Linked DNA regions of Homo sapiens. The protein of the gene in region 1 purifies or fractionates together with the protein of each later gene. This does not show direct contact. Each region holds a gene or a part of one and is shown on either strand. Other genes may lie near its edges.

Region 1 (3,827 bases):
ATGTATAAACCATTTTATAGGCAGAAATAACACAAAATGTAAAGACACAGATAAATGACTGCTCACATGTACAATTACAACTTATTAATTAGGGAATTGAGCCTATCCTTTTTGATTACACCAAGAGCAAACACTTGGAAGCTCGCAAGTGGTTTACTCCAGACCATATTTGAGTTCTACAAAATAACACTAGTGATTGATTTCATGATCCCCAAAAACATTAATTGGTTTTAAAACTTTCTAATGCTTGCCACTTTTCCTTTTCTTTTTATCATCTCCGTTTTCATTTTGTATTTTCCTCTAAATGAATAAAATACTACTAATAATATCCACCAAATTTTGGGTACTTATGATGTACCATTGTGCTTGTTTTTTTCACACATTATCTCATCATCTCTATTACTTGTTGAAATCCCTACTGCCAGCAGTTACATAACTTCTTTTTTCCCTCATTATATGAATGACCTTCTATGAATCCTAGAACCTTAGAACACAGAGGAATAGTAAACTTCTGTTATTGGTTATAAATTATCTCCAACAATGGTGCTTTTGCATCTACACTCTGCATTTGATTTTAACATTTCTTCATTCTCTGCACTGAGATCTCCATATTGCAGAACACCAAGGCCAAGTGCTCCTATTCGCTTCACTAAGACAGACTTTCTGGAGGCAAATGCAGTGTTTGGCTCATGGGCAAACATGCAAAGACAGGCACGAAAAAGGTTTGAAATGATTAAAAATGCTAAATCGACAGGATCCAGCAAGCAATTCCATGTGAAAGAGGTGGGAATTGGAACCTGGCCCACAAGATTGACGGAACTGCCTTTGATCTGGTAAGACATTGAGCAGGTTGGGAAGAACAAGATAGAAGCACAGATTTGGAAACATCTAATGCGACCACATGGGCAATATCCACAGTGTGTACACTAGACAGTAGCACAAACAGCAGGCCTACATGGAAGGTGCAGATTCAGCAATGATCTTGGCTGCTCTGGAAAGTTCCTTGGAGTCACGAGAGCAGAGGCACAGGTTGACCCATGCTGACCCCAGGCCACTCTCCCTGCCAGAGAACAGAGCTCTGGAGTGAATCCAGGAGGAGACTTCCAGAAAGCTCCTGTCTCACCTCTGTCTCACGTTGGCCTCTGTGCCCCTGGTGTGGAGGTCACTCTCAACACCCATCCTACGTTCCTCCTCTGAAAATAAATTAGGACAACCATCTCCAAAATTACTTACATATCAAGGGTCAAATATCGCACATTTCTGTTTAGGCCATCTATGGCTTTCATCTCCTCTGAAGTCAACTGGAATTCAAACACCTATCAAAGTAATAGAAAACTTTAATTATTTTTAGATTACATCATTGCCAATTGGGAACAACCAAGTTCATCAGACAGTAGGGTGCAGAGACAATACTTAAAAGATTGATACGTTTCCAAAATTTATGAAAGACCTCTCTAAACACCCAAGTGGTCAATGAAAACCAGTCAAAAATAAGCAGAAATCCATTCCCAGATAAAATATTTTGAAACTGCACAACACTGCAGATGAAGAGAATATCTCAGAGGAAGCTGAAGAAGAAACAGAGCTTACTTTGTGCCCACATGATAGGGTCATGTACCTAGAAGACCCACAAGAATCTAGAGGCAAATTTTGTAATGTCTAGCATAATTTAGTAGGTTTGATGAATAACATTGAATATCTATCTCTCCAATGAACAGGTATAATAGGAAAAATTAGTTTTCAACATCACTCAAGCCAATAATTGTCTAAATACTAACGATTTCACATTCAAAAGGTGTGGGTACTCTCACTATGTAAATTTGGGAGACTCTAAATATCAAAAAGATGTCACTCTTTCTAATACATTCAATCAAATAAGTGTATAAATCCATAGGGAAACTGAAGGAGTAATACAGAAAATGAGAGAAAGAGAGTAAAAAATGACAGCAATGTAACACTTGATGAATGTAGGTAAGAAGATTTGTTGCATTATTCTTTTAATATTTCTATATATTAGAAAATCCATAAAACAAAAATGAAAAGTTATCAAAAACTATTAAAATCATCAGTAACAGAGAAAGTTATGAAATTAATTATATATTTATTAAAAGGCTATTAATAAGTGGGAAATTCATATTATGATCATGCATTGGAAATCTCAATATTGTCAAACATTTAGTTCTCTCCACATTGATCTGGAGGCTTATTACAATGTCAACAAGAGACTAAACATTTATTTGCTTGTGGAAGTTAATAAGATGATTCAAAGTTTTAAATAACACATTAGTCAAGAATAGCTAAGATATTATTAAATAAATGAAGAAGTTAGAAAAATATTTGTACCATACTGGAAGTGAAACTTACTTTTTAACATCATAGTACAGAAAAGTAAATAAGTTAACTGAAGATGGAAGAGAGGCCAGATAATTGCTCATGGACATTTCATATATGTTACAGGTAAAAAAATCAAGTTATGTGAGCAAATATGAACTTTTCAATAAATGTTGGTGGGAAATTTTGCTAAAAATTCAAAAATTAGATATGCATATTTGGATCCTTATCTCATACAGTATTTAAAAAGTCAATCCCATTAGAATTAACCAAATTTATAAGGAAAGAATATTAACAATTTTGTAAGATAACACAGTAATATATTGTGATATTCCCAATATAGGATAAGACACAACACTCACCAACCACAAGAAAGAGGCATGAAAAATTAGTCTACATGAAGGATAGAAACTTTTGTTTGTGAAAACATAACCACAGAGAATATGACAACACAGGTAAAATTTGGGAGATGTTATTTCAAGAATACATTTAAGTCTCTAAAGAATTAATATCCAGAATAAATACATATATATGTATGGTTTCTAGTTAATCTAACATATATATTATATAACACATATGTCATATATCTATATATACTAGATGAATTAGAGAACATACACATATGTATAAATACTGATAATTTCCACAGTTATTTCATAATATTTCCTTTTAGTTTTGTGGGTTTTCTAATGTCTAAAAATATTTTTAAAATAATATAGTAAATGCCATTACCTAGATTCATCAATTGTTTCATTGTCATTTTTTACTTTCTTTCTCATTCTCTGTATCATTATTTCAGAGTATCCTATGGATTTCTACACTGATTTTACTTAATGTTTTAGCAAATAGTGACACATATACATATACATGATATATGTCATATATGTGACATAGGTTTTATAATATATATCATATATGATATTTCATATATCTGTATATAACTAATTAGAAAACATATATATGCATGTATTCTGGATATTAATTCTTTAGAGACTTGGATGTATTCTTAAGAATATATGAAATAGTATATCAATTTATATATATTCATATTCATACATATAACTATTAATATGTTATTTCACACATATCGTATAAATGATAGATTAATTAGGAACATGCCCTCTAACAATCACATGTCCCTGTATCCACTTGCTTGGTTATATGAATTTCCAGCTCCTTCCAACAAGAGGTGGTGTCTTTTTCCCCACCCCTTGAGTCTGACCTGTCCTGTAACTTGCATTAGGTGATAGAATTTCCCAGAAGCAATGGTTGGCAGCTCTGAGCCTAGACCTGAAAAGGCTTTGCACATGTCCACTCACTGCCTTGGGGTCATGCCCTGTGCTGAGGTGAACCCTGGGCTGGATGGCTGGAGGATAAAGAACTGCATGGGAGAGGGGGGCGCTCACACAGATGCCCCAGGGACATCCTGAAGCAGAGCTGCCTCACTGCCCTGAACACACATGAGAGCCCAGCCAGGAACAGAAGGAATGGACTGA
Region 2 (3,827 bases), on another chromosome or scaffold:
TCACTCTGTTGCCCACGCTGGAGTGTAGTAGTGCGATCTCGGCTCACTGCAACCTCCACCTCCCAATTCTCCTGCCTCAGCCTCTGGAGTACTGGGATTACAGGTGCACACCAACAGTCCTGGCTAATTTTTGTATTTTCAGTAGAGATGGGGTTTTGCCATGTTGGCCACGCTGGTCTCGAACTCCTGACCTCAGGTGATTCCCCTGCGTCAGCGTCCCAAAGTGCTGGGATCACAGGCATGAGCCACTGTGCCTGGCCTCGGTATATACTTTTTTTTTTCGAACATCAGGATCCTTTACCACACAGTCTCATTAAGCTTTCTAGCTTCGTCACAGCAGCTGTCAGAAGGTTAAGACACACTACCGAAAAAAAAAGTCCTGGAATCCAGGGCCAATTATGAGGCCAACTTTTCCCACTACAAAACAAAAACAAAACCCATAGGCTTTCTTTTTCGTATGGCAGTGACAGAGAGGAGTCTTACTGAAAACTGCCAATGTACTAGTTCCTGAAGATCTAGGCAGAGAAATGCGGATTTTTTTTTCTGTGAAAACTTGGAAAACCTTCACCTGCATATTTACTAAGGGTACTAATATACATTTATTTTTATTTTATTTTTTTTTGAGACAGCGTCTCTCTCTGAAGCCCAGGCTGGAGCGCAACCTCGGCTCACTGCAACCTCCGCCTCCTGGGTTCAAGTGATTCTCCAGCCTCAGCCTCCCCAATAGCTGGGATTACAGGCGCCTGCCACCACACATGGCAAATTTTTTTTTTTTTTGTATTTTGAGTAGAGACGAGGTTTCACCATGTTGGCTAGGTTGTCTCAAACTCTTGACCTCAGGTGATCCATTCGCCTTGGCCTCCCAAAGTGCTAGGATTACAGGCGTGAGCCACCACACCCAGCCATGCAATTTTGGACTTTTAGCATTACTATAGTTCCCTCCAGTGGAATCCTGTAACCCTAGAAAACCATGAATCTAGGAGTGCTGCTCATAAATATCTGCTGACAAGTATTATTTTACTTTGTCCTTGAAAGTTATAGACTACGATCAGAAATTGTTACCAGCTACAAGGAAAATTTGGGAGTGAGCCAGCGAAGGAGAGAACCCAGTTTTCATGGTTCCATATTACCCAGCCTATCACTTCCAATCTTTACACAGAGCAAACACTTGACTTTTCTTCTCAGTTGTCACCCACATTTGTAACCCACAGCAGTTATGGCTGCAATGGCTAGCAGAGTCACAGTCTGGGCTGTGGAACAGAGTAAAGTAATGTGCCCAGCGTGCGGAATGAGGCCATCATCTTGGTGTCAGAGCCCAGTGCTCCAAACAGCTAAGTTAACTGGCCAGGCTCCAAGTGCAAGTGACAGCAAATGAAAGAAAAAGCAGCTGTCTGCAACATGAGGCCGGAGCAGCTGCCTGTTCATCTATTTCTGTTTCCGTACTCCTTTTCTACTTGGAGTCACTTTATTTAGGAGAACAAAAGAATTTATCAGAACTTGACGGAATGCCATATGCTAAACTACAGAAAGACGAACCGGTTCTATGCCTAATCCCTAGGACGAAAGCAGAATGAGTCTAACTTGACGTATAAGCCGGGCACGGTGGCTCACGCCTGTAATCCCAGCACTTTGGGAGGCCGAGGCGGGGGGATCACCTGAGGTCAGGAGTTCGAGACCAGCCTGGCCAACATGGTGAAACCCTGTCTATTAAAAATACAAAATTAGCCGGGTGTGGTGGTGGGCGCCTGTAATCCTAGCTACTTGGGAAGCTAAGGCAGGAGAATCGCTTGACCCAGGAGGCGGAGGTTGCAGTGAGCTGAGATCGTGCCATTGGACTCCAGCCTAGGCAACAAGAACGAGACTCCATCTCAAAAAACAAACAAACAAACAAAAAAACCCAAATAACTTGACGTATGAAAGCTGAAGGCAGGCGGGGTGCTAATTATAGGCCCAGCCTCTGCTCCACCTCCCATAAACAGCAAGTGCTGCCCACACACAAGGCAGTGGCGTATCTCACCATGGAGTCCGTTTCAGCTGGCTGGCTAGACTGTTTGTGCGCCAAGAGGATGGTCAGCACTGCTTTCCAGCCTGGCTCTGCTGGGGCGCTGGCATCTGGTTCAGTTCCACCATTCTCCCTGCTTTCTTTGCCAAGTGTGATATTCACCCAAGGGCACCAGTCTCTATGCTGAGAGGTGGGATCAAAGAAGCTTCGGGAAGATGTGTCCTGAGGAAGGAGAAAAAGAAATAGCATTCATAGGTAGATGCTATGTAAGTTCAGGGAGGCACTGCTGTTAGTTATCAAGTCCAGAATCTCACAACTACCCATACTTCGAGTGTTTATGCTCTCCTTCAAACTTTGCCTACACATTTTCCTCTCATTTTCTTTATTTTTTCACTCCTTTTGTGTTAAACAAACTATACCTTATCACAAGGGATAAGGGATACCCAACCCCCAGGCCATGGATGGGTACCAGGTCGCACAGTAGGAGGTGAACAGCAGGCGGGCAAGCAAAGCTTCATCTGAATTTACAGCTGCTCCCCATTGTTTGCATTACCACCTGAGCTCTGCCTCCTGTCAGATCAGCAGTGGCATTAGATTCTTATAGGAGCAGGAACCCTACTGTGAACTGCACATGAGAGGGATCTAGACTTCGGGCTCCTTATGAGAGTCTGACACCTCATGATCTGTCACTGTTTCCCGTCACCCCCAGATGAGATCATCTAGTTGCAGGAAAACAAGCTGCAGGTTCCCACTGACTCTATATTATGGTGAGTTGTACAATTATTTCATTATATATTACAATATAATAATAATAGAAATAAAGTACACAATACATGTAATGTGCTCGTATCATCCCGAAACCATCCTCCCAACCGTGGTCCGTGGAAAAATGGTCTTCCATGAAAACGGTCCCTGGTGCCAAAAAGGTTGGGGACCGCTGCCAGATCAGGTTTGTCCCTGTATCACACCGTTGTTCCATTTGCCTGAAATATCTATTATTTCTCCAGAATCCACTCCAAAGGAACAAAAAGGAGCAAAAAACATGACTGACATTTTTTCCCTTTGGTCATCCAACTTTAAATTTATTCACATGGTCTACTTTTTGCATTGGACCACGGAAGGGCTCCTGCCTGCTTCTCCATGCTGCCTAGGGAGGGCCCAATATGCTGTTTATGCTCAGCCACTGCTACATGCGAGGTGGACTCACCGAACTGCTGGAGGAGCAGAGGCGAGCTCGCTTGGCTTTCCGCAGAGGGCTAGATGGTACCTCCAGGCCAGGGGTGTCTCCTGTTCCCATGCTTCGGGTCACTGGGCGAGTTCTGGTGGTGGGGCTAGCAGCCTCTGGCTCAGGACGGTCAACAGGACTGGAAGAGTCCCAGCTCCGAGTTCGAGAGACAATGGGACCAGGGCTCTTTTCAGCCTGAAGGAAAGGGGAGATAATGGAAGTACACGAATGATATTAATGATTATGGTCAGAAATACTTCTTTCTTTAATCTTTTTTCTTTTTTTTTTTGAGACAGAGTCTCGCTTTGTTGCCAAGGCTGGAGAGCAGTGAGGCGATCTTGGCTCATGGCAACCTCTGCCTCCCGAGTTCAAGTGATTCTCCTGCTTCAGCCTCCCAAGTAGCTGGGATTACAGGTGCCTGCCACCACACCTGGCTAATTTTTGCATTTTTGGTAGAGACGGGGTTTCACCATGTTGGCCAGGCTGGTCTCAAACTCCTAACCTCAAGTGATCTGCCTGCCTCAGTCTCCCAAAGTGCTGGGATCATAGGCGTGAGCCACCGGGTCTGGCTGAATTTAGCTTCCCCATTAGTGAACAGAA

Evidence for each region.
Region 2: the proteins of AKR1C1 (region 1) and ZC3HC1 purify together in Homo sapiens (co-immunoprecipitation; one large-scale study listed by IntAct). This does not show direct contact.

Annotation. Positions count from the first base shown.
Region 1 is NC_000010.11:4,973,340-4,977,166, reverse strand, and holds part of AKR1C1 (aldo-keto reductase family 1 member C1), read right to left. Parts: intron 1,317-3,827; coding exon 1,234-1,316; intron 1-1,233. UniProt on the Homo sapiens protein: Cytosolic aldo-keto reductase that catalyzes the NADH and NADPH-dependent reduction of ketosteroids to hydroxysteroids.
Region 2 is NC_000007.14:130,020,302-130,024,128, forward strand, and holds part of ZC3HC1 (zinc finger C3HC-type protein 1), read right to left. Parts: intron 3,423-3,827; coding exon 3,210-3,422; intron 2,225-3,209; coding exon 2,018-2,224; intron 1-2,017. UniProt on the Homo sapiens protein: Required for proper positioning of a substantial amount of TPR at the nuclear basket (NB) through interaction with TPR.